7 linked regions of the Homo sapiens genome follow. The protein of the gene in region 1 purifies or fractionates together with the protein of each later gene. This does not show direct contact. Each region holds a gene or a part of one and is shown in the gene's direction. Other genes may lie near its edges.

Region 1 (3,500 bases):
CAGTTTCACTATATGTCTTTGTATATATTTTTTCCTTCATTCTATGCTTATCAATCTGAGGACACTCATGTTCTCTCAAGAAGAAAGCAATTAACAGCCCCAGGAATTTAAATATCTAAATTACACAAGAGGTACACAAATACATGTTTTCTATAATTAAAATATTTGTTTTTGTATTTATTTTTATCGAGGTGGAGTTTTGCTCTTGTCACTCAGGCTGGAGTGCAGTGGCATGATATCTGCTCACTGCAGACTGCACCTCCCGGGTTCAAGCAATTCTGTTGCCTCAGCCTCCTGAGTAGCTTGGATTATGGATTACAGGCACCCACCACCATGCCTGGCTAACTTTTGTATTTTTAGTAGAGACGGGGTTTCACCATGTTGGCCAGGCTGGTCTTGAACCCTTGACCTCACATGAACTGCCTCCCTCAGCCTCCCAAAGCGCTATGTTAATTTAAAAAGGAAACAGGAATCCATAGCATGCTTTGAGTGTCATCATGTGCTAAAGTGCACTGGTGCTAAAGAGGTCCAGAGGAGTAACACTCTGTCCATAAGGGCACTCTGAAAATTTCTAGAAGACAAACTCTCAGTTGAGTCTAAAATGTTGTAGGAGAGGCAGTCAGATAGAGGAATGTGGGAATGGCTTTCCAGGCAATGAGAAGAGAATTAGCAAAGTCATGAAGCATGAAAATGTTTTATACTTCTGAAATGTAAGATATAAGGAACACACAAGTGCCAGAGGTTAAAAAAAAAAAAAAAAAGAATGCAGATTATTCAAAGTCTTCTGAAACAATACAAGAAGCAAGGAATGTATTGAAAAGAAAATGGGCAAATATTGAAAGATTTCAGTGGGATAAAAATGTGGTTTATAGAGAGAAATGTGGATCTGTGAAATGAAAATGAATTAGACAAATCAAGCCTAAAAGAAAAATCAAGCAACTATTGAAATATTCCAGCCAATAAATCCTGTGTTCCTGCAATAGAGAAAATGTAGATGTTCAGGAAAGTGATAGTTTTATGGGCACAGAGGACAAATATGGCAGGGTCCAACACCAAGGAAGAGGATACTGATGAGAGCTGACAAGAGAAGAGTTAAGGAGAATAGGGTCGGCGCCCCAGCATGAAACTGTAGTGCTGCGGCAGAAAGTTATTCATATAAGGTGGGAGGCTGCAGCCCATTTACACCTAGGCCACTCCAGTCATAGTGGTGGGTGTGGGAAGATTTAAGAAACAACAGGCAGGTTTTGGGGGATAGGCTCCAGCCCCAGTAAAGGATGGGAAGAGCAACCAAGCACTTTGACACTCCACAGCCCATACTCTAAACACTGAGACAATTGCTTGTTCACAGACCTCCCTCTAACACCTGGACCCAATTCAACTATCCTCATTCAATGGGATGAATTACTTGGACATTCCTAAAGCAAAAGTTCTTCACTCAATTTCTACAGTAACTCATTTGGTCATTAAGTCCTTCTTTATCACACATATTCATGGACAACTCTTTCTTTTATTATTATTATTATTATACTTTAAGTTTTAGGGTACATGTGCATAACGTGCAGGTTTGTTACATATGTATACATGTGCCATGTTGGTGTGCTGCACCCATTAACTCATCATTTAGCATTAGGTATATCACCTAATGCTATCCCTCCCCCCTCCCCCCACCCCACAACAGTCCCCAGTGTGCGATGTTCCCCGTCCTGTGTCCATGTGTTCTCATTGTTCAATTCCCACCTATGAGTAAGAACATGCGGTGTTTGGTTTTTTGTCCTTGCGATAGTTTGCTGAGAATGATGGTTTCCAGCTTCATCATCCTGATACCAAAGCTTGGCAGAGACACAACAAAAAAAAGAGAATTTTAGACCAATATCCTTGATGAACATTGATGCTCAATAGAATACTGGCAAACCAAATCCAGCAACACATCAAAAAGCTTATCCACCATGATCAAGTGGGCTTCATCCCTGGGATGCAAGGCTGGTTCAACATACAAAAATCAATAAACGTAATCCAGCATATAAACAGAACCAAAGACAAAAACCAAATTATTATCTCAATAGATGCAGAAAAGGCCTTTGACAAAATTCAACAACCCTTCATGCTAAAAACTCTCAATAAATTAGGTATTGATGGGACGTATCTCAAAATAATAAGAGCTATCTATGACAAACCCACAGCCAATATCATACTGAATGGAGAAAAACTGGAAGAATTCCCTTTGAAAACTGGCACAATGAACAACTCTTTCTTATGGGCCACTTATTCACATAGGCATACATCTTCTTTTAAATTCTCTGTATACATGTGTAACACTATATACCATTTTTCTCTTGCAGGCTCACTTATATCTTTAGAGATGGCAAATAACTACAAGAAAATTGTTCTACTGAAAGGATTAGAGGTCATCAATGATTATCATTTTAGAATTGTTAAGTCCTTACTGAGTAACGATTTAAAACTTAATCCAAAAATGAAAGAAGAGTATGACAAAATTCAGATTGCTGACTTGATGGAGGAAAAGTTCCCAGGTGATGCCGGTTTGGGCAAACTAATAGAATTCTTCAAAGAAATACCAACACTGGGAGACCTTGCTGAAACTCTTAAAAGAGAAAAGTTAAAAGGTAATTGGGAAGAGGGAACACCCACTCCCTGCAATGATCCCCACCCTTCCCAACCTTGATTAGAACGCCACCTTGGTCGTAGCTGATACATCCTTTTCCCAATTTGTGACTCACTGGCCATGGCAATGTTGGTACTTCAGATGCCAACAAGTTGACAACTTATGGCATTCCATTACTAAAGTGGATTGACGTATATCGGAGTTGAGGTGCAGTAAAAGAACAAAAAGGAGAGGGAGTTGAAGAGAGACTGAGACTTCTAGTACATTCGAAAGATTACATAATGACAAAATAAAATTATAAAAATTGTTGTTTATATCTGAGATATGTACATTTAGTCAATTAATGTGTTCATTCTATTGAGAATATTCAACACACCATCATCCTTTATAATACAAAAGATAACAATACTTAAATGTAAGCATTGCTCCCGGAAGTGTGAAGACCTCCCCTCTTGTCATGTTATTGAGTTAAAATAATTAAAACAAACTCAGCCTGGCGCTGTTGCTCACGTCTGTAATCCCAGCACTTTGGGAGGCTGAGGTGGGTGGATCACGAGGTCAGGAGATCGAGACCATCCTGGCTAACAAGGTGAAACCCGTCTCTACTAAAAAATACAAAAAATTAGCCAGGCGTGGTGGCAGGCACCTGTAGTCCCAGCTACTCGGAGGCTGAGGCAGGAGAATGGCGTGAACCCGAGAGGCGGAGCTGGCAGTGAGCCGAGATCGCGCCACTGCACTCCCGCCTGGGCGACAGAGCGAGACTCCGTCTCAAAAAAAAAAAAAAAGAAAAAAAGTCAAAACTCACCATATCTCACCTCACAAACCTATTTAACATCTCCTTTCACTAGTTTCTGTAATTTAAATAGATTATCTGGAG
Region 2 (3,500 bases), on another chromosome or scaffold:
GTTGCCCAGGCTGGAGTGCAGTGGCACAATCGTAGTTCAATGTAGCCTTGAATTCCTGGGTTCAAGTGATCCTCCTGCCTCAGCTTCCTGAGTAGCTGGGACTACAGGTGTGTGCCGTTGTGCCCAGCTAAGCTTTGCTTTTTCATTAAATAATTATTTTTAGTTTTTACTTTTTGGACCACTCATTATTGGAAGCTTTATTCTTTAGATCTGAAGGAGAGGGGTTCATGCCACCAGTTACTTGACCAGCAGAGAATGCACCTAAAATTGCTTCCTAGAATCTCTTTTGGGTTCTGCCACAGCATTTTGGATGAGTCTTGTGAGCCTCTGCTTCATGATCCCAGTTTCAGATTTAAAATTTGGAAAGTGAGTTTATGGCTATGTCCATGTGTGACAAAATGCATGGTGAGAAATCAGCATTGGGCATTAAATACAAAGTAGAGACGACAAAGTGAGGTGCTCAACTTGAGATTCAGGTAGATCTCTTTCCTACTAATTTCCCCTCCTCTCTCTCATGGTCACATATGTGTTTGTGGCCTTCTGGGATGAATATATATACATCTGTTTCTTCTGCTATAAAATTAAGTAAAATTTGGGTTTGTCTGCTGCTGGAAGAGTTTGGAATGGTATCTAGTTCAAAGCTTAGACCCTGCTTGAAAATATTCCAGGATTGCTCTTGATATGGAAGCTTTTTGTTCAGTTCTTCTAGATCAGCTAAGCCTCAATGTTCTTCAAAATGAAAGAGAATTGTCTTCATGAATTTTCTGGCTAGCCCATGCCTATTTGAGCAGTTTAACCTTTCATGTACACACTCAACCGTGGACCTTTAGTTGTGCTATCTTAAATTTTAAATATAAGTGTTCTGTCCACGAAGCCTTAAGACACAGGGCCCTGGGTACTTTCTTCCTTACTTATTTTTAACTGTGGCACTTTGTTAGTGGATTAGCTAATTTTGGTCAAGTCTATGAAAATACGCCTGGAAAAAGAGGCAAAAGTTGTAATCTGGTAAGCACTTGGATGATATCCCCTGAATTTTGACCCCGCTCTCCTTTCCCAGTTATTTGTATGAGCTTATGTGCTTGTAGGGGCTGAGAGCCTGTCTGTGTTTCAGTTTATCATTGTTGACTCCAGACACTCATAGTTCCTTTGAGGCGGGTGAATGCTTAGTAGTTATTTATCCACTCACCTCTGGAGGGGATGTGTGGCCAAGGCTTTGGAATAGTCTCAGGCCTTCTATGTGTGTGTGTGTTGGCACATACACAAATGCTCCCACCGAATCTGGTACAGACCATACACGCACTTGCACAAGTATTAGGAGTACTAGGTATTTAAAAGGGGCTCAGTTTTTCCAACATAACTGGCAGAAATTTTGAAGAGTCTAAATTACTGAATTACACAGTTTATCAAAAAGTCACTAATGGTGGTTCCAAAATTACCAGAAGTCCACAAAGCGGAGCTACCCTGCTGAATGATCCTAGCTTATGTTACACACTGGTTTCTAGTGGCTGGGTAAGCACAAAATGCTTGTTTTTTAAGTGCTTGGCAGGCAATAACACCTTCAAAATGAAAAAAGATGTAACCACTGAGTATAAGTTTTAAAATAATAAGAACAAAAAAAATTTTTTTGTGCTTACGTTGGGCTTATTCCATCTTGAATTTCATTAGGTTGATGTATTAAATGAATTTTACATTTTATTATTGTAACAATTAGAATCCTTTGCTATTGGCAAGGCTGACAGTTGATGTTTGAGCAGAAAGATAAGTGTCTTGAGTGGCAGCTACGTTTACTTGGAAATGCCTCTTATCCCTGTCAAAGCAAAGAGGTATCTTTGTGTCCTCTCCCTTTTGAAGGGAAACAGTTGGGATTCTAATGCAAACCTGAAATCTGTGGCAGATGCCAGAATGTACCATTTACAAAGCCCAGAGTCCCTAGAACAAAGTATTTCATTGATGTTCTGGTAATTTTCTTGCCTTTGCAAGTTCTTGTAAGAATGGAAAGAAAGATAGTTTCTCCAGCATACTTTTTTTTCTTTTTGGCTTATGACAGGAAATATGGGTTTCTGTTAGTGTTCTATATTTTAAGTCTTTTGTTGCAATGTTGTTCTGATCAAATGTTTGTGATAGCATAGTTAGGAGCTTATCCACATTCTTGGTTAGAAGATCAAGGGCAAGAGCTTGAAGGGCTGAGGAGATAATGAGCAGTTGTGTTCTTCCATTTTGTTAAAGCATTGCATTTTAGATTCCAGGTAAAAGGATTTTTTCTAGTGTCTCAGCTGATTTCACTTGCTTTGGTTGATGCAGGTGAGAAAGAAGAGTCCCCTTGGGCTCCTAGAATATTGAAGGCAGAGACTTCTGTGAAGCGAGTTGTCTGTTTCCTTGCATAAGGGCTATGTGACCATTAATCCTTGTCTGAGGGGTGCTTTGACCGTCTTGAGGGACATGTGTGCCTATCTCAGCCATCACTGACAAGTCTGGCTGGCTCATGAAGTCTGTGCTCGTCTAGATCACTACTACCCTCTACTGACAGTTTCCTACCCTGTCTCTTTGGTCGACCCGCCATGTGGCCCCCATGGGTCAGGCCTCTGTGTTTGTACTAATGAACATTACGCTTTCTTACCAGGAAGAGGAAGAACAGGAGGAAGAAGATGATGATGAAGATGATGATGACACCGATGATTTAGATGAGCTTGACACTGACCAGTTGCTGGAGGCGGAGTTGGAGGAGGACGACAATAATGAGAACGCAGGGGAAGATGGGGACAATGACTTCTCTCCCTCTGATGAGGAGCTAGCAAACCTTCTAGAGGAGGGAGAGGACGGGGAGGATGAAGACTCTGATGCAGATGAGGAGGTGGAACTGATCCTGGGGGACAGTAAGTATAGGGCAGAGTTCAGGCTGAGCCTTGGCACCCAGGGCAAGATCCCTTCTTTTGTGCCCATACAACTTAGAGGGCAAGCCATACCACGGTTCTGTGCCCCATAATTTGATTCACTACTCTGGTCTCTTGAGGCAAAGCACCTTTGCATCTCTGCCCTCCTCTCCTGTCAGACTGTGGAACCCAACCAAATGGCTGTCATTTCTTATCTTTCAAGTAGAGATTGGCAGACTTTTTCTGTAAGATCAGACAGTAAATATTTTATGCAGCCGGGCACGGTGGCTCACGCCTGTAATCCCAGCACTTTGGAGGCTGAGGCGGGTGGATCACCTGAGGTCAGGAGTTCGAGACCAGCCTGGGCAACATGATGAAATCCTGTCTCTACTAAAAATACAAAATTAGCTGGGCGTGGTGGCACATGCCTATAATCCCAGCTACTTGGGAGGCTGAGGCAGGAGAATCGCTTGAACCTGGGAGGCGGAGGTTGCAGTGAGCCGAGATCGTGCCACTGCACTCCAGGCTGGGATAATAGAGTGAGACTCCATCTCAAAAAAAAAAAAAAAAAAAAAAAAATGCTTTGTAGGGTATATGGCCTTTGTTGCAGCTCTTCAACTCTGCTGTTGT
Region 3 (4,270 bases), on another chromosome or scaffold:
GGAAGAGGAGGGGGGCTTGAGGAGGCCTGATTTGCTGAGTACAGGGGCTTGCAGGCTCCAGGAGTATCAGAGGTGCAAGTGGTAGGCTCCAAGGCCTGAGGAGGCCTCCAGAGGGCAGAGAAGGGGACCCTTCTTCCCCACTCATCCCCTGTATGGAGGTCCAGAGTGATGCCTGCCAGTATGAATTTGCTCATCCCTCAGCAAACATGGAGTGTGGCCCTGGGCAGAAGGGAAACCAAGGAAGGAACTGACAGGCCTGCCCAGGGCAGGGGTGTTCGCACTGCAGGACAGGATTGGAGCTGAGTGCCAGGTAAGGGGTGAAGCCCCGTCTGTGGAGAGGGGGCATGCAGAGCAGGGGGCTCTCCAAAGCCCAGAAGTCCTGATCCACTTTTAACCCCCAGAACCAGAAGACTGTCCTTCAGCTGTTTCACATCCCTTATTCAAGGCCACCTAGGGCCCAGAAGAGGAGGGATTGGGGTGAGCCCAGCCCCCTCCCCGCAGAGCTGGTCCAACTAGCTTTGCCTGACTCTCACATTGGCCTTATCAGCCCAGGAGGCCTGGGTGGCTTCCTGGGAGGCCCTCTGGGGGCTCTCTGACACCAAGAGCCCAGTTTTCCCAAGGGACTCTCCAAAGGGGTGGTGGGCAACAGGATCTAGGGACCCTCCCAGGGTCTGTGGTGGGAGGGGTCTCTGGGCAACCTATAAAGGGGGTTTTCTGGGTCCCAAGAGTTAGGGGGTGGGTCTGCATAGGGACCTTGCCCAGACAGCCCCTTGGGAGGCCACCTGAAGAAGGGACCCTGGGGATCCTCCCCCTCGGCTGCATGGATCGCTGGGGTTTTGGGATATGAGTGGCTCAAAAGTGAAATCCGTGCACCTGCTTGCTTCCCCCTCCCACACCCCCAACACTCCACCAAAGGCACTCTTGGGGTTAGAAACCTCCCAGCGAGAGGGAAGGGGACCCTCCTCCCGACAAGGTCCAGGTATTGCTCTCTGAAGACCTTCTAATCGTGTCCGTGCACCCATTTCGCAGAAGGGAATGCGAACGCTGGGAGCTGCGGCTGGAAGCCTGGACGCCGCGTCTCCCTAGCGCAGCAGCCCGGCTGGGCGTCGGACCTTACACGATCCCTTCCCCGGGATGACGCCGGATTCTTTCCAGCATCACCCCGACCCCAGCGAGGCGCCCACAACAGGGCGTGGGGCCCGGCCGCCCGCGGTAATGACAGGGCCCGCGGCCCGTGGGTGGCGGCGGCGGAGGAAGCTGGAGGAATCTGGCTATTTCTGGTCGGGGCGCGCCCGCTGGCCCGGGCCAGGGTTGGCCAGTCCTCCGGGCCCCCAGCTCTGCCCTCCCTCTCGCGTCCCCAGAAGGGGGCGGGGAGAGACGAGGGTTGGCGGGCTCAGGGGGCGGGGGCGCAGGGCAGCGGGGGCGGGGCGGTGTCCCGGGACCACCCCCGGCCTCCTCCCACCGCGGTCCATTCAGGTCCCTGCACCGCACTCCGCTCGGACCCCAGGCCGCCGGTGCTGTCGCTACTCAAGTGAGTCCCGCGGTGCCCCTCCCGCCGCGCCGCCCGTCGGGCATGGACTCGGGCCGGGACTTCCTGACCCTGCACGGTGAGTGCCTGGCCCGCGCGAGCGGGAGACCCTGCAGGGGTGGACCCCTGGAAAGCTGTTCCGGGCCCTGGACAGGGAGCCCCCAGCTCCTTCGGCCGCCTCCACACCACCCCGGGCCCGCCTCTCTGCCCCTTCTCCGGACTGGGAAAATCTCAGCCCGCGGCTCCCTGGGTGGGACTGCCGGGCACGACCCTGGGCGTTTCCAGGCTTGTCCGAGATCTAGCCCGGGGGGTGGGTGGGCGGGCGGTACGGGTCTAAAGACTTCCCTCCGCCTCGCGGACCCCCTTGTCCTGGTCATGAAAGTCTGGGCTCCACGATCCCGCTCGCACGGAGGGGCGGCGAAGGAAGGAAACAGCATCCAAGAACGACCAAAATTCTCCTTGCCCCATCCGGGCCGCCCCAGAGGCTCCCCAAAGCCTGGGCGTGCCTGGACCGCGTCAGGCCGCGCGGGTGTGGCGGAGCAGGGGCTAAGCGGGTGGGGAGAGGAGGTGTGCAAGGTTAACCGTGGTCGGGCCGTGCAGCCTTAACTGCCCAGCGCAGAATAGTCAGCGATGCTCAGGCTGAAAGAAGCAGCACGATCCCCTCATCTGCGACCCTCCTCGGGGGACAGGGCCAGGTCTCAGCCGGAGCTGCCTGCTCCATCCTTTGTCCAGCGGAGCTTTGTTTCCTCCAATATGAGCCAGCTCTTTGCCCTTTCGCTGTCCCTCCAGCAGCGAGGGGAGCCTGGGCTCCCGAAGGCAGATCTGGAGGCCTTCTGGGAGGCGGGAGGTTGGGGAGGGTAACTTTGGGCGCCTCTTTGCTCCAGGACAGGCACTCACTCACTCTTGGTGGGGGCTTGCCCTCCTGCCCTCCCAGGTCACTTGCCATCTCAGCAAACCCTGCTCCTTTCATACCAATCACTGCTTTACTGTATATCCCTCTCTTTTTTAGTACCCTTGGGGTTGGAGGCTTTAGTGGCCACCACCCATCCATCTAAACTGTTCATGGACATAATAGATGGGAAAGAGAAGGGCAGAGTCCTCTAGCCTTCCACTAGAGTCCCCCTGGAATTTAGAGGGACTTAGAGATGTTCCCATCAGCCAGCCTCCAGTCTATCTCGTGTTCTGCAGTTGGCACAGACCTGGTCCTCCTGGCCCAGAGAGACCTTGCTCTGTGCCCAGAGCTGTTGCTTTTACACCAATAGCCTAGGCTCCTTAAAGCCACCTTGTCTAGATGAGTCATGGAGTCCCTGCCCCTTCCAGTGCTCCCTCTTCTTTCTTCAGGCCAGAGGTGTCTTTCGTGCGCCTGCCAGACTAGCAAGAAGGGAGGCTGGGCAGCTGAGAGGACACAGTGGACATCTCTGCTTTCTCTCTGACACAGCGTCATTCCTTGGCTCCTGTTGGAACAGGCTTCATCCTCAGTGTCTGTGCCTTTGTCCAGTTTCTCTCCTGAGGCAGCCTTGATATCTTTTCCATGGAGGAAGACACATGGAGGCTCAGTCAGGACCTCCCAGTCCTGTGGCATAGGCTTGGCTGCCCTGGCCCACCCCATTTGAGACCAGCCTCCCAAATGCCTAACTCAGTCCAGCCTTTCCTGAAGGGTTGACATGAACACTGTGACCCCAAGCTGTTTTCCCTGAAGGCCCTGCCACTTCTAGCTCATCACCCAAAATTACCTCAACTGCCTTCTGTCCACACTGCAAACCAGATGGGGAAATAAGAACCTGTCAAGGAGAATTGTTGGTGGGAGGGGGTGATCACTGTGCCCTGTGCTGTTCCAGGTTGTCTACACTTGCATTGGAGAGTCTGCATCCGTTTCACAGTGTGGGTGCCCCAGCACTGGATGTGCTGCAGGACCACACTCTCTGGCCTAGGGCTCCACACTCTCTGGAAGGAGCCCAGAGGGACTCCTTCTGTTGGCCTGGGGAGCTATGCGGCTCACCTAGATGTGACATGTCCCTTCTGTCCTCACCCCAGATGCATGCAGAAGTAATGTAGTTTACTGGCATAGATTCTGAAAGCAAAGTACCTGAGTTCAAGTCTTGGCTTTCTCATCTCAGATGAATCCCTTGACTTCCCTGTGTGTCAGTTTCCTCATCTGTAAAATGGGGGATAATACCATCTACCTCATAGGGTTGCTACGAAGATTGAATGAGATAATATCTACACAGCAGTTAGAACAGTGCCTGGTACCCAGTGAGTACTATGTTCCTGCAGGAGGCCCCCTCCCCAAATTTCTATGCCCTATGAGTTGCCATCTGTAGTTCTTTGGGAGATGATGGGGGCATCATAAGGTAGTTCCTAGTCATGGAAAATAGGGCCAGAACTAGATTCAAGAGCGAGCCAGCCAGCTCTTTCTAGTGCCTCTGAAGCCCTCAGACTGATGCGACAGCATCCATCCTCCTTCCTTCACCTTACTTCTTCCACTCTTTATTCTGGCTATGCCTGGACTGGCTTCTCTAGCAGGTCCCCCGATGTGCCCCAAAGGACATTACCTCCCAGGGCCCTCCCCTCACTGAACACCCCCCACATACACACTAACTTTTCCTACACCCAATCCCTTTTGCCCCCACCCCTGCAAGAGGTGCCGTTTGTAAAAACAGAAAATAGAGGGGCCTCATCTTGGCCCCAGTAGACCTGGGCTCCAGTCCTAGCTTTGGTTCTACTTACTGTGGGTCTGAGAAT
Region 4 (3,336 bases), on another chromosome or scaffold:
ATGTCTTAGGAGTCATAGAGGACTCTGACTTTTCAAGGCTGAGCAACTAGAGCCATCAGCAAAGCTTTAGCCCAAACTGGGAACTCATGAAGGGGAACTGATGGGGGAGGGGGTAGGGAAGACCATTCTAGTTCACACTTGTTGAATTTGAGGCACTAGCAGCAAATCTAGGTGGGAGGAAGTACAGGACTAGTACACACCAGGACTAGAAAGAAAATATTTGGATAGGCTGGGTGTGGTGGCTCATGCCTGTAATCCCACCACTGTGGGAGGCTGAGGCAGGAGGATCACTTGAGTCCAAGAGGTTGAGGCTGCAGTGAGCTATGATCACACCACTGCACTCCATCCTCAACAACTGAGACTCGGATTTTTGAGACCTTGTCTCAAAAAATAAAAAGGTTTGGGTGATAGTTAAACCCAGGGGGAAGTCTTAAAAAGGGAAAGAAAAGAGGCCATAAATAAATAGAGCTTTGGGGATATTCACAGTACCTTGAATGTAGTTGGTCAATAAACATTTGTGGAATGAACCTCACAGTGTTAACAGTGTTCATTCCATAAATATTGAGTATCTGCCATATGCAAAGCACTCTGCTGGAGCCATGTGAGTACAAAGCATATGAGAACCCACAAGCCCAGAATGTGATATGCTGCTTGCCCCCAGGAAGCAGAATATCCACAGTAAAGCATGTACCATGACAGGGCCTTAAGAGTGATACAAAAATGTTAATGTTGATCACAAGATCTAGCTTAAGCCTTTCCAAAAATAGTCAACATGAATGAGTACAAATTGGGATGGCCGTAGTAATGAGATTTACTGATGGCTTTCTTTTCAATTATTTGTACATCTAGGGAGCCTTATCTCTTTGGCCCCTGGGCAAAGTGGCCTGAGAGTCTGGACAGATGGCATATACTAGAGTTATGTGTTTTTCACACATATTAATAGTGATGGAACTTTAGCAACATCGTTTTTTCCCCAAAGAAACATGACTCCTTATTGACACATATGTACTTGTTAATTCCCAGATTGTGCCTTATAACCTGCCTTTGCCTGGGGGAGTGGTGCCTCGCATGCTGATAACAATTCTGGGCACGGTGAAGCCCAATGCAAACAGGTAAGGAGAGCAAAATTAACAAGTCTACTCTATTTGTAGATTGGTTTTTGAATAAAGAATGGCCTACTTTTTTTCTTCTTGCCCTGTCTTACAGTGCTATTTTGAATTTTAGTAAAATTTTAAAAACTACATATTTAGAATCTTGGCTATACCATCATATAGGATTATCCCATAAATCCATACATATTCCCATATAATTTTGCTAAGCATCATGGCACTCATAGTAAACGGTAACACACCTTATTCTATACTTTGATATGTATTATGTCAGCTAATCTTCATGGCTGAAGGCAGGATAAGGAATATTGCTCTCCCCTTTTTATAGACAAAACTGAGGTTCAGGTTCTACAGATGATCAGTGGCAGGCCTGGGAACCCGTCTTTTGAGCAGATACTATTTGCTTATGGGTTTGAAGAGATTCTACAAGTTAAAAACTTCATCATTATAAATCAACCTTTACTATTGGAAGTAGTTTGATTGATGAGGTGGGCTAGGATGGGGTGAGGCTTTATTTAGGAAAATACATGCTAATTATGGCTGTCCTGGGCTGCTTGGCCCTGGTTGTCACCACTGGTTATGTAGTACTTACATATCATACAAGGAAGCTGGCCATGTCCTGAAACCATCTGAGATGCCTGCCCCTAAGGTTAGTGGAACTGTCTCTAGGTCTTATGGACAGTACCTAAATGGCACAAATTCAAGCCATGTACACAGGTTTATGCAAGAATCCATAAACAGTCTCAGTGTCTGTCACCTTGCTCCACATCCTGCAATCAAGAGATGGACTTCACTTCTGATCTGATAATTTCACATTCAAATGCTCATTCCCTCCACCTCAGCCAGCCTCCTCTGCTTCTGCAATGGTAGTCACTATCCTAAGCCAACCCATCTTTCCACACAGCCTAGACAATTTCTGTAAGCACAGAACTTCCCCGTACAATAATGCCCGTCTCATAGCAAATTACAAAATATATACATCCTCTACCTATGTCCTTATCCGTATTTCCTCCCAACATCACATAGAACCCAGCACACCTTATCCTGTGCACACAGCACTCATGATTTATTAAATATCTGCTCTCCTCCTCCCACAACCCCTAACGCACACTGAATACCCAGTTTGGTATCCTTGTCTTGTTAGAGTCATTTCACTGGAAAGTTTAGTTCTAATAATGCTAGAGATGTAGATTGAGACTGGCAGATCAAAACTAATTCTGGTTGAAATGGTTAATGGTAGTAAACTTAAAAAAAACTGTTGCTTAGTCCTGCAAATTCTATATGACGAACTGTGTAGAAAAAAAAAGTGCTTAAGGTGACAGAGATGACAACATTGTATATTTAGTCAAATACAAATTCTATGCTGTTTTTTCCTTACAAATTTAATCACTGGAAGATCATTTGTGGTTGAATGTGACTGTTACTGGGTGAATCAAAATACACAGACAATCTTTGTTAGTTGGTCTAGAGTGCAGATTAAAATACGAATACCTACTGATGACTCTGGTGTTACCGCTCTATAGAGCGCACTTTGAGAAACTCAGGGATGGGGTTAGTCAAAGAGGACTTGTGTTTGCATTAACCTCCAGGGAGAAGGAACAGGGTCAAAAAGCTAAACTAGCAATTTCATTGGTTCTGGCTCACATCATAGAATGTTTACCACATTTACTATCATGACTTTACAACTTAGCAACAAGATACTGAATATTAACTACCTTATCTCATTCTTGCTGTTTTAGAGGAACTAGGGCTTCTGGTTAATTATGAGGAAGCCAGGTATTTGATGGCTGTTAACTATATAGCTGGCTTGCCTTTACCAGGTATTGAAAGCAAACTGGAAGAGCAGGAAAGAGATAACCATTATCTATAGTAAGGGATAAAGTGTCCTCAGAGTGGCTCTAAACCTCTGTAAGAAAACCTCGAAGGGTTTTCATGAGTCTGTAGGGGCATTACAGATGAATGGAAATATGATCGAAGACAATGAGGCAAAAAATTCAACATCTATTGTCTTGCTTACCTTTAGATTTTGTGATAGTACATAGAATATCAGGCATAGGATATTTTCCAGTTTGAACCCATTCTGATTTATTTGCTTTCCATTCAGAAAAATTTCCTAGGTACTGTATTATGAAATTATTTGCTTTTTAGAAAATTACATGTTCTTTACACAGTGCAAATGTACAGCTTTAATCATTTTAATAACTGGTCTTTGGTTTAAAACAGAATT
Region 5 (3,500 bases), on another chromosome or scaffold:
GCTTGTTCTCAAATGTCTATTAGTGTGGATTTAGAACAGCCTTTAAAAGTTTCACTCAAAAACTTCCAAGTAATTGGCCTTACTACGAGGCAATACTCTTCAGAGTCTGCCTGATGCCCTGTGGATTGTGAGATCTCTCTGCTGAAGCTGGTGGAAAGGTGGTGGAAATAAATCCACTGGAACACGATTTATTTCTAGTTCTGTGTGAGATTGGGAGTTGTCTGTCCTACTGCTTTCCAGTGCTTCTTTATGCAGTTCCAGTTTTCTCATGAATGTGTAGATCATCCCTCCACCAAAGACTTGAGGGGACCCCTCTGCAGATCTCTGGAGCTTTCTCTCTGGGAAACTCTTCCTTCCTGTACTCTTCTCCACAAATTCTAGCTGTCCCAGCCTTCCCAAATCCTACTTTGTCTCAGTTCCTGGAGACCATCAGGTTGTGGTGGATTCTCCCTCCCTGCATAGCAGGCTAGGAATTGCCTCTAGACAGAAAACTGGGGCAAATGTTCAATTAACCCTTGTTGTTTCCTTCTTTCAGGGATTATGGTCTTGTGCTGCTTTTTATCCAATGTCTGAAAACTGTTGTTTCATATTTTGTTTTGTAGTTGTTTAAGGTGGGAAAGTAAATCTAGTCATTGTTACTCCATCATGGCTGGAAGCAGAAGTTGCCGTGTATATTGTCTAAAGTGGATTTATGCCAGTGGTTCTCAGGCAGATTTTATGGTTGTTTGTTTTTATCCTTACTATTGTCATTTCTTTGATTTTTTTCTTCTTACCCACTCTTAACTGATTCAGCCCTCCTCAACAGAAGTGAGAAAGAGAAAGTCATTTGAGCATTGTCTAAATACAGGGCACTTTAGGTACTGGGAAAAAAAATTTGTTCCTACCTTCATACAGATTTTGCATCAAATAAACAACACATAGGAAAGCAGTGAAAGGTTGAAGAAGAAAGGCTAGGGCCATTGAAAATTGTCCCTGTTTCTTTCTTTTTTTTTTTTTTTTTTTTTTTATTATTATTATATATTTTTTTGAGACAGAGTCTCACTCTGTTGCCCAGGCTGGAGTGCAGTGGCACGATCTCGGCTCACTGCAACCTCCACCTCCCAGGTTCAAGCGATTCTCCTGCTTCAGCCTCCCAAGTAGCTGGGACTACAGGCGCGTGCTACCATGCCTGGCTAATTTTTTGTATTTTTAGTAGGACGGGGTTTCACCGTGTTAGCCAAGATGGTCTCGATCTCCTGACCTCGTGATCCGCCTGCCTTGGCCTCCCAAAGTGCTGGGATTACAGGCGTGAGCCACCGCACCCGGCTGAAAATTGTCCCTATTTCTTAACTACAATAGTGAAAAACAGAATCGCAGAAGTGGTTATGAGTTAAGACTACTTAGAAATAAGAATGGAATCAGTGACAGAGAGGGAAAAGCATGGGTGAATAGGAGAGAAGACTAAGTGAAGAAGAGGGAAATTGGTGTTTAAGGAAGAAAATGGGAGAGGATGAGCTCAGACTCAGGTGAAGGAGAAAGCTTGTTTCAGTTGGAATGTTGGTCTGTTGTGAGGGCTAGTGCTCTAGGAGATCAAATAGCAGCCATTGGGACATGATCTGGTGGCATAGTGCAAAGAATATCTGCTCCCAGGCAGGGCGCGGTGGCTCACACCTGTAATCCCAGCACTTTGGGAGGCTGAGGCAGGTTATTCACCTGAAGTCAGGAGTTCTAGACCAGCCTGACCAACATGGCAAAACCCTGTCTCTACTAAAAATATAAAAATTAGCCAGGCATGGTGGCATGCGCCTGTAATCCCAGATACTCGGGAGGCTGAGGCAGGAGAATCACTTGAACCTAGGAGGCAGAGGTTGCAGTGAGCGAAGATTGTGCCACTGCACTCCAGCCTGGGCAACAGAGCAAGACTCTGTCTCAAAAAAAGAAGAAAGAATATATGGAAAATACAGAAGATTGATTTGACTTTGTCATGTCATTTCTCTTAGTTCCTGCGACCTGAAATACACAGAAGGAGTACAGTCCCTCAACTGGACTAAAATCATGAAGACCATTGTTGATGACCCTGAGGGCTTCTTCGAACAAGGTGGCTGGTCTTTCCTGGAGCCTGAGGGTGAGGTGCGTGAGTGTGGGGTTTCTTTTCTGGTACACAGTGTTGCCCGCTATCATTTGGTCAGTTAGAATGGAATATGAGTAGTACATAAGGGACTAGGCCATCTGGGAGAAGCTCTAAACACCACTTGATATTATTGTTTCTTCAAATTGATAAATTGATTGGGCAGTGGTAACTAACTCCTGACAAGATTTCTTGGAAATTACAAAAACTTTTCCTCAATGAGTTTCTTAGCATTTAGGGAAAAATCCTTCAGGGCATTTTGCAAAAATTATTTTTTAAAAAATGATCCACTTAACGTTTGTGTGATACGTAAATACAGAAAGTCTTTCTGTTGTTAATTTCCCTGGGTGAGGAAGGCTAACGTGAATTTTTCAGAAATGTAATAATACATAATAATAGTAAAATAATAATTGCACCTGACCACTAATTTTAAACAAGTCATTTTATCTCTTGATCCCTCAGATTATTTTGCTCTTGTTTTCTTCATGTAAATACTGGTATACTATGTGGGCTGAATTAATTCATTAAGTTAATAAGGTAAATGTCAAAAAAAAATCAGTATTATGCTCTAACTCACCAGGGGAGTGATGCTGAAGAAGGGGATTCAGAGTCTGAAATTGAAGATGAGACTTTTAATCCTTCAGAAGATGACTATGAAGAGGAAGAGGAGGACAGTGATGAAGATTATTCATCAGAAGCAGAAGAGTCAGGTTAGTCTTACAGAGCAAAGTTCGTCCTGGCTTCCTAATCTAATGTCATTTCTGAAAACTACTTTTTTTAGACTAAGAACTCTGTCGTTCCATTCTGTTCCCGCATGATGACTAACGCTTAATTAATTTTCTTCCAGACTATTCTAAGGAGTCATTGGGTAGTGAAGAAGAGAGTGGAAAGGATTGGGATGAACTGGAGGAAGAAGCCCGAAAAGGTTTTTAAAAATGTGTTGTTTTTTATTCATTTGTCTACGCACAAATTTCTAACACATTTCAATATTTTGAGGTGTTAGTATTGATGGCGTAATGAAAGTAACAAAAGAACACTATAAAAGTGCTTTGGAGCCACAGATACAACTTCATTGACTGAAGGAGAAAATGAGGTGTGGAATGTGTCCATACTCTCCAGTGGGCAGTGCTCTGCCAAACTGGATGCTGTTTTCATCTGCGCAAGCCCCCATCTTTCCTATAGCCATGATAGCCACATATTCATGTAATACTCAAGAATTAGCCTACTCAGTTTCCAAACCTAAATCCTATAATACTTTAATTTTCTAGGCTTCTTCCAGGTTAGGCATGTCTTTATAATGCTAATCTAGTTACTCTGAAGCCAAACCCCAAACAAACGTTTTAAAGCTTAAAAGGAAATAAATATTAACTGCTGTGTTCCAAGCATTGGGAAT
Region 6 (3,500 bases), on another chromosome or scaffold:
CTCCCTCTACCTGTGTATTATAAGGATACATATGATTGCAATTAAGAAACCACTTGGATGAACCAGGATAAATTTCTCCAATCCTATCTTTTAATTCAACCTGAGAGAGCAGATTTAAAATATATTTTATTCCTAAAGTGGCAGGTCCCTGAAAAAAAAATGTAGATTCATGTTTATTTTGAGACAGAGTCTCGCTTTGTCACCCAGTCTGGAGTGCATTGGTGTGATTTTGGCTCACTGCAACCTCCGCCTCCCAGGTTCAAGCTATTCTCCTGCCTCAGCCTCCTGAGTAGCTGGGATTACAGGTGCCTGCCACCGTGCCCGGCTAATTTATGTATTTTTGATAGAGACAGGATTTCACCAGTTTGCCAGGCTGGTCTAGAACCCTTGACATCAGGTGATCCGCCTGCCTCAGCCTCCCAAAGTGCTGGGATTACAGGCATAAGTCACCGCGCCCGGCCGGATTCATCTTTTAATCACATCTTTTGCTATATAAAATAACATTTACAGGTTCAAGGGATTAAGATAAGAATCTCTTTGGGGGAGGGCCATCATTCAGACCACTACACATTGGTTCCCTAACCTCTACCCAAATAGATTTGAGCTAATTCAGAAAAGAAAATGTTATTTTTAAAGAAACAGAGGCAAGTGAAAAAAGGCTCAGAAACCTGGGTTCTTGTCCTGCCTCTGCCATTATCTAATGGTGTAACCATGGGTGAGCCATTTGCCCTCTTTAGTCCTTAGTTTCTTTATCTTATAGGGAAGGAGTTGGATAAGTGATCGTTAACAAGCCTTCTAGACCTAAGACTTTATGAAGTGATTCCTAAGTCATCTTGGAGTTTGTTTTTTAAGTCAATAATTTAAAATGTGAATCAAAACATTACAAATTACAACATTTTGGGTGAGGGTAGTCCTGTTCTTGCCTAGGACTTGAAGGATGGAAGACTGAGCTGTTGGCTGACTGTCAACTCCTTGGGGTATTAACACAGGATAACTAACCTGTATTTGTTAGCTGTGTGCTTAAACCTTTCTGAAGAAAAGATTTTCTACAAGGGATGTAATAGACTAGCTGGAACATTTTCACTACATTTTTAGTGAGACTATAGACTGTGTAGCCTGAATTTTCTTTCCAGTAGTAGTAGTTCATCAAAATTAAACACTGACAGATTTTTTTCTACCTGAAACTAGGTCATAGAGTAAAAATTTTCACTTGCAGTCTTACTCTTCAGACTCACTGAATGCCTGTTCCATCCTGTTTCATTGCTAGGAAGGACACTAGATAAAGCCATGAGCTTGAGATGGTGTACTTGAAAGGACCGTTTCAAGATCAGGTTTTATAACACACTCATTATTTATTTCTTCTGTGGAGAGGAGAAACCAAATTGGATTCAAGTATTTTTCTGATAGTAATCTATGTTTCTTAGAATAAAGCAAGTTCATATCTGAGCCAGAGGGCATAATTATGTCAGAATAAAATATAATTATGTCGGAATAAAATGCCCTGTACTAAAGAGGTCAACTAACAGGCTGGGAAATCTTAAGTTTTGTTTTTAAGACAAATCCTTGAACTCTCTGTGCCTCGTTTCTCATCCCTAAATCTGTGCAACTCACCTCACAGGGAGTTGTGGAGGGTAATATACTGCTAATTTGTTCAGTGTTTCACAACAATAAATTATGCCTAAGATCTGATAAAACATAGCAAACCTCATTTATGTAAGTAGAGACAAGCATGGATAAGACTTACAGATAATAAAGAAAATTCATTAAAATTTTTTTAACTTCCTTGATTATTAAACATTTTTCCTTCTGTTTCCTATATATTTTCCAAAGTATTTTCCTATTGTTTTTCCATAATAGACTTATGAGATAGGGCAAATAACAAACACCAGGTTATATAATAAATGAATAAATTCATCAAGCGGACATAACAATCCTAAATGTCCTAAAAGCTAATAATAAAGCTTCAACATACACAAAGGAAAACAGAAATGAAGTAACAAGCCAGGTGCAGTGGCTCACGCCTGTAATCCCAGCACTTTGGGAGGCTGAGGTGGGTGGATTACCTGAGGTCAGGAGTTCCAGATCAGCCTGGCCAACATGGTGAAACCCTGTCTACTAAAAATACAAAAATTATCTGGGCATGGTGGCGTGCGCCTGTAATCCCAGCTACTTGGGAGGCTGAGGCAGGAGAATCGCTTGAACCTGGGAGGTGGAGGTTGCAGTGAGCGGAGATCGCGCCACTGCACTCCAGCCTGGGTGACAGAGCAAGACTCCGTCTCAAAAAAAGAAAAGAAAAAGGAAATAACAGACATCTGCAATTATATTTGGAAATTTCAGTGCCTCTCAGTAATTGATAAAACAGGTAGATGAAATCAGTAAGGAAACGGAAGACTTGAACAACACTACCAACAACCTGATATAATTGACATTTATAGAATAGTACAAGCAACAGCAGAATACATGTGCTTTTCAGGTGCACATGGAACTTTTACACAGACAGTTTACCTTCTGGGTCAATAAGTCTCAAATTCAAAAGGATTCAATCATAAAGGTTTTTTAAAAAAATTTAAACGGGGTCTTGTTCTGTCACCCAAGCTGGAGTGCAGTGACACAATCAACTCACTGCAGCCTGAAACTCCTGGGCTCAAGTGATCCTCCTGCCTCAGCCTTCTGAAAAGCTGGGACCACTGGCATGTGCCACCATGCTCAGCCACCCACCCTTTTTTCTTTTTTTGTAGAGACAGGGTCTCGTTATGTTGCCCGGATTGGTGTCAGACCCCTGGGCTCAAGTGATCCTCTCATCTCAGCTTCCCAAAGTGCTGGGATTACAGGCATGAGCCACTGTGCTTGGCCAAGGTATGTTTATTTCCTGATCATAGTGCAATTAAATAAAAAATCAGTAACAAAGACATCAAGAAAAATCCCTAAATATTTTGAAATTACACAACACACTTCTAAGTAACCCACCTACAAAGAGGAAATTACAAAGAAAACTAATACTTGGAACTGAATGAAAATGAAAAGATGATATATCAAAACTTTTAGAATGAGGCTAGGTGCTGTGACTGATTCCTGTAAACTCAACGCTTTGAGAAGCTGAGGCGAGAGGATCACTTGAGCTCAGGAGTTCAAGACCAGCCTGGGCAACATAGTGAGACCTAGTCTCTAGAAAAAATTAAAAAGTATCCAGGAGTGGTGGTTTGCCAGTAGTCCCAGCTAGTTGGGAGGCTGAGGTGGGATGCTTACTGGAGCCTGGGAGATCAAGGCTGCAGTGAGCTATGATCCTGCCACTGCACTTGAGCCTGGGTGGCAGAGACCCTATCTCAAAAACAAAACAAAATTGTGGGATGCAGTTAAGGAAGTGCTTAAAGGGAAATTTATAGCATTAAGTACTTTAACAACAAAAGCAGGTCACTGACAGGTTTGGCCCTGTGAACCTAGAAAAAGAACAAATTAAATCCAAAATAAACAAGAAAATAGTAATGATAAAAGCAGCAATT
Region 7 (3,500 bases), on another chromosome or scaffold:
GAACTCCTGGCCTCAACTGATCCACCAGCCTTGGCCTCCCAAAGTGCTGGGATTACAGGCGTGAGCTACCGTGCCCGGCCCATTCACAAGATATAAGAGCCAAAAACTATGAATTGGCTGATTTGTTTTCTGCTTTCTATTATATATTCAATTTGGTTGGCATTTATTGAGTACTTACCATCCTGGGCACAGTGCTAAAGAGTAAAAACCGTGGCTGGGCGTGGTGGCTCACGCCTGTAGTCCCAGCACTTTGGGAGGCCGAGGCGGACAGATCACGAGGTCAGAAGTTCAAGACCAGCCTGGCCAACATAGTGAAACCCCGTATCTGCTAAAAATACAGAAAATTAGCCAGGTGTGGTGGTGGGCACCTGTAATCCCAACTACTCCGGAGGCTGAAGCAGGAGAATCACTTAAACCTGGGAGGCAGAGGTTGCAGTGAGCCAAGATCACGCCATTGCACTCCAGCCTGGGCGACAGTGCGAGACTCCGACTCAAAAAAAAAAAAAAAGTAAAAACCGGTTGGGCGCAGTGGCTCACACCTGTAATCCCAGCACTTTGGGAGGCCGAGGCAGGCGGATCACGAGGTCAGGAAATCGAGACCATCCTGGCTAACATGGTGAAACCCCGTCTCTACTAAAAATACAAAAAATTAGCCGGGCATGGTGGTGGGCGCCTGTAGTCCCAGCTACTCGGGAGGCTGAGGCAGGAGAATGGCGTGAACCTGGGAGGCGGAGCTTGCAGTGAGCGGAGATCGTGCCACTGCACCCTAGCCTGGGCAACAGAGCGAGACTCCGTCTCAAAAAAAAAATTAAAAAAAAAAAAACGACTTGTTAGATGTGGTTCTTATTCTCAGGGAATTCCTGATCTCATTGTCAGGAGAGAGGTGAATGTCAAGTTGATGGTATGACATGGGCAGTTTTGTGCAGTGTCTACAAACACGGCCATTGCAGTCTGGATCTAAGTTCTGAGTTTGGCTTCAAAAAACAAGGTCAAAAACCCTTGACAGGGTGGGGAAAATGGGGAATTGCTGTTGAGTGGGTATAAAGTTTCAGTTATGCAAGATGAGTAAGTTCTAGAGATCTGCTACACAACATAGTTCCTGTATTAATCGTATAGCATTATGCACTTTGAATTATGTTGAGGATGGATCTCATGATAAATATTATCACCAAAAACAAAATACAAGGAAATTTTGGAGGTGTATTTAGTGTTTTTTTTTTTCTTTTTTGAGACGGAGTTTCGTTCTTGTTGCCCAGGCTGCACAGTACAATGGCGCAATCTTGGCTCACCGCAACCTCCACCTCCCGGGTCAAACGATTCTCCTGCCTCAGCCTCCCAAGTAGCCAGGATTACATACAGGCATGCACCATCACACCTGGCTAATTTTGTATTTTTACTTAGGACGGGGTTTCTCCATGTTGTTCAGGGTGGTCTCGTACTCCCGACCTCAGGTGATCCACACACCTCAGCCTCCCAAAGTGCTGGGATTATAGGCGTGAGCCACCACGTGCTTAATAAAGCTACCTTAATAAAGCTTTTTACAAAACATTGGCAGACCCGGGCACAGTGGCTCAGTCACATGTATAATCCCAGCACTTTGGGAGGCTTAGGTGGGAGGATTGCTTCAGCCCAGGAGTTCAAGGCCAGTCTGGAAATGTGGCAAGACCCCATAATTGCAGAAAATTAAGCTAATTCATATATGCATCATCTCACATCCTTGTCATTTTTTGTGATGAGAACACTTAAAAATCTGCTCTCAGTTATTTTCAGGTATACGTTATTATTAACTGTAATATTCATGTTGTATAATAGATCTCTTGAACTTATTCCCACTGAAATTATATGTCCTTTACCAGTGTCTTCCCCACTACATGTGTAAGATTTAAATTAGTTTTGTTAGTAATTCTTTAATATCATCAGATATCCAGAGTTGAAATTTCTAATTGTCTTGTGTCACATCTTTTTCACCATTTATTGGTTTGAATCAGGATCCAAAGAAGATTCATGCATTGTGATTGATTACTGTCTCTTTAAGACTCTTTTATCTGTATCAGAGTTTCTCAGCCTCAGTGCTCTTGACATCTTGGGCCTGATAATTCTTTTTTTTTTTTTTTTTGAGATGGAATCTCGCTCTGTCGCCCAGGCTGGAGTGCAGTGGCGCGATCTTGGCTCACTGCAAGCTCCGCCTCCCAGGTTCACGCCATTCTCCTGCCTCAGCCTCCCAAGAGCTGGGACTACAGGCGCCCACCACCACGCCCGGCTAATTTTTTTGTATTTTTTAGTAGAGACGGGGTTTCACCGTGTTAGCCAGGATGGTCTCGATCTCCTGACCTCCGGTAATCTGCCCGCCTCAGCCTCCCAAAGTGCTGGGATTACAGGCGTGAGCCACCGTGCCCGGCCTGGCCTGATAATTCTTTGTGGTGGAGGACTGACCTGTGTCTTGGAGGATGTTTAATAGCATCTCTAGCTTTCACCCACGAGATAACAGTAGCACATCCCAGCCCAGTAGTGACAACCAAAAATGTGTTAGCCAAATGTTCCTAGAGGCAAAGTCACCCCAGGCTGAGAACTACTGATCTACTGGTTCTCCCTCCAATCAGTCTTCCCTTGTATTCTTCTTGTTATCTATTTGCAGAAGAACCTGAGTATAATCTTGCAGTGTTTCCCTCGGTATGGATTTCACTGATTTAATCCCTGTAGTATAATTTAACATCCTGAGTCACCAATTTCCTGTTAATTGGGTTGGATCTAGAGACTTGATTGGTTTCAGAGTTTTGGAGTTTGTTTGACAAAATTGCATTATAGGTAGTGGTTTTTTCTTTTTCTTTTTTTTTTTTTTTTTTTTGAGATGGAGTCTTGCTCTGTCCCCCACGCTGGAGCGCAGTGGTGCAATCTCGGCTCACTGCAAGCTCCGCCTCCTGGATTCAAGCTATTCTTCTGCCTCAGCCTCCCGAGTAGCTGGGACTACAGGCGCCCGCCACCATGCCTGGCTAATTTTTTTTGTATTTTTAGTAGAGACGGGGTTTCACCGTGTTAGCCAGGATGTTCTCGATCTCCTGACCTCGTGATCCGCCCGCCTCAGCCTCCCAAAGTGCTGGGATTACAGGCGTGAGCCACTGCACCTGGCCAGTAGTGGTTGTTTCTTTCATCAAGAGGCACATGTCTGTTGTGTCTTTTTTAATATTAACAACCATTGATGCCTAATTCATTCACCAAAGGGTCTTTTTGTTTTAAAATGTATATTTTTATTTAGACATGCTTTGCTTTAAATAACAATCTGTGTTCTCCCTTAATAAAGGCAGGGGAAATGGAAGGTGATGCAGTCGAAGCCATTGTGGAGGAGTCCGAAACTTTTATTAAAGGAAAGGAGAGAAAGACTTACCAGAGACGCCGGGAAGGGGGCCAGGAAGAAGATGCCTGCCACTTACCCCAGAACCAGACGGATGGGGGTGAGGTGGTCCAGGATGTCAACAGCAGTGTACAGATGGTGATGATGGAAC

The links.
Region 2: the proteins of PYHIN1 (region 1) and DCAF1 purify together in Homo sapiens (affinity purification with mass spectrometry; 5 studies listed by BioGRID and IntAct, with this or other methods). This does not show direct contact.
Region 3: the proteins of PYHIN1 (region 1) and PLCD1 purify together in Homo sapiens (affinity purification with mass spectrometry; 3 studies listed by BioGRID and IntAct, with this or other methods). This does not show direct contact.
Region 4: the proteins of PYHIN1 (region 1) and LGALS3 purify together in Homo sapiens (affinity purification with mass spectrometry; 3 studies listed by BioGRID and IntAct, with this or other methods). This does not show direct contact.
Region 5: the proteins of PYHIN1 (region 1) and SUPT16H purify together in Homo sapiens (affinity purification with mass spectrometry; 2 studies listed by BioGRID and IntAct, with this or other methods). This does not show direct contact.
Region 6: the proteins of PYHIN1 (region 1) and CBX5 purify together in Homo sapiens (affinity purification with mass spectrometry; 2 studies listed by BioGRID and IntAct, with this or other methods). This does not show direct contact.
Region 7: the proteins of PYHIN1 (region 1) and CTCF purify together in Homo sapiens (affinity purification with mass spectrometry; 2 studies listed by BioGRID and IntAct, with this or other methods). This does not show direct contact.

The regions. Positions count from the first base shown.
Region 1 is NC_000001.11:158,934,552-158,938,051, forward strand, and holds part of PYHIN1 (pyrin and HIN domain-containing protein 1 isoform alpha 1), read left to right. Parts: intron 1-2,339; 5' UTR 2,340-2,359; coding exon 2,360-2,624; intron 2,625-3,500. UniProt on the Homo sapiens protein: Major mediator of the tumor suppressor activity of IFN in breast cancer cells. Promotes ubiquitination and subsequent degradation of MDM2, which leads to p53/TP53 stabilization.
Region 2 is NC_000003.12:51,402,516-51,406,015, reverse strand, and holds part of DCAF1 (DDB1- and CUL4-associated factor 1), read left to right. Parts: intron 1-2,620; coding exon 2,621-2,873; intron 2,874-3,500. UniProt on the Homo sapiens protein: Acts both as a substrate recognition component of E3 ubiquitin-protein ligase complexes and as an atypical serine/threonine-protein kinase, playing key roles in various processes such as cell cycle, telomerase regulation and histone modification.
Region 3 is NC_000003.12:38,026,843-38,031,112, reverse strand, and holds the start of PLCD1 (1-phosphatidylinositol 4,5-bisphosphate phosphodiesterase delta-1), read left to right. Parts: upstream 1-1,470; 5' UTR 1,471-1,573; coding exon 1,574-1,607; intron 1,608-4,270. UniProt on the Homo sapiens protein: The production of the second messenger molecules diacylglycerol (DAG) and inositol 1,4,5-trisphosphate (IP3) is mediated by activated phosphatidylinositol-specific phospholipase C enzymes. Essential for trophoblast and placental development.
Region 4 is NC_000014.9:55,139,252-55,142,587, forward strand, and holds part of LGALS3 (galectin-3), read left to right. Parts: intron 1-1,023; coding exon 1,024-1,112; intron 1,113-3,332; coding exon 3,333-3,336. UniProt on the Homo sapiens protein: Galactose-specific lectin which binds IgE. May mediate with the alpha-3, beta-1 integrin the stimulation by CSPG4 of endothelial cells migration.
Region 5 is NC_000014.9:21,353,020-21,356,519, reverse strand, and holds part of SUPT16H (FACT complex subunit SPT16), read left to right. Parts: intron 1-1,979; coding exon 1,980-2,109; intron 2,110-2,687; coding exon 2,688-2,817; intron 2,818-2,954; coding exon 2,955-3,032; intron 3,033-3,500. UniProt on the Homo sapiens protein: Component of the FACT complex, a general chromatin factor that acts to reorganize nucleosomes. The FACT complex is involved in multiple processes that require DNA as a template such as mRNA elongation, DNA replication and DNA repair.
Region 6 is NC_000012.12:54,270,123-54,273,622, reverse strand, and holds part of CBX5 (chromobox protein homolog 5), read left to right. Parts: intron 1-3,500. UniProt on the Homo sapiens protein: Component of heterochromatin that recognizes and binds histone H3 tails methylated at 'Lys-9' (H3K9me), leading to epigenetic repression. In contrast, it is excluded from chromatin when 'Tyr-41' of histone H3 is phosphorylated (H3Y41ph).
Region 7 is NC_000016.10:67,607,526-67,611,025, forward strand, and holds part of CTCF (transcriptional repressor CTCF), read left to right. Parts: intron 1-3,298; 5' UTR 3,299-3,307; coding exon 3,308-3,500.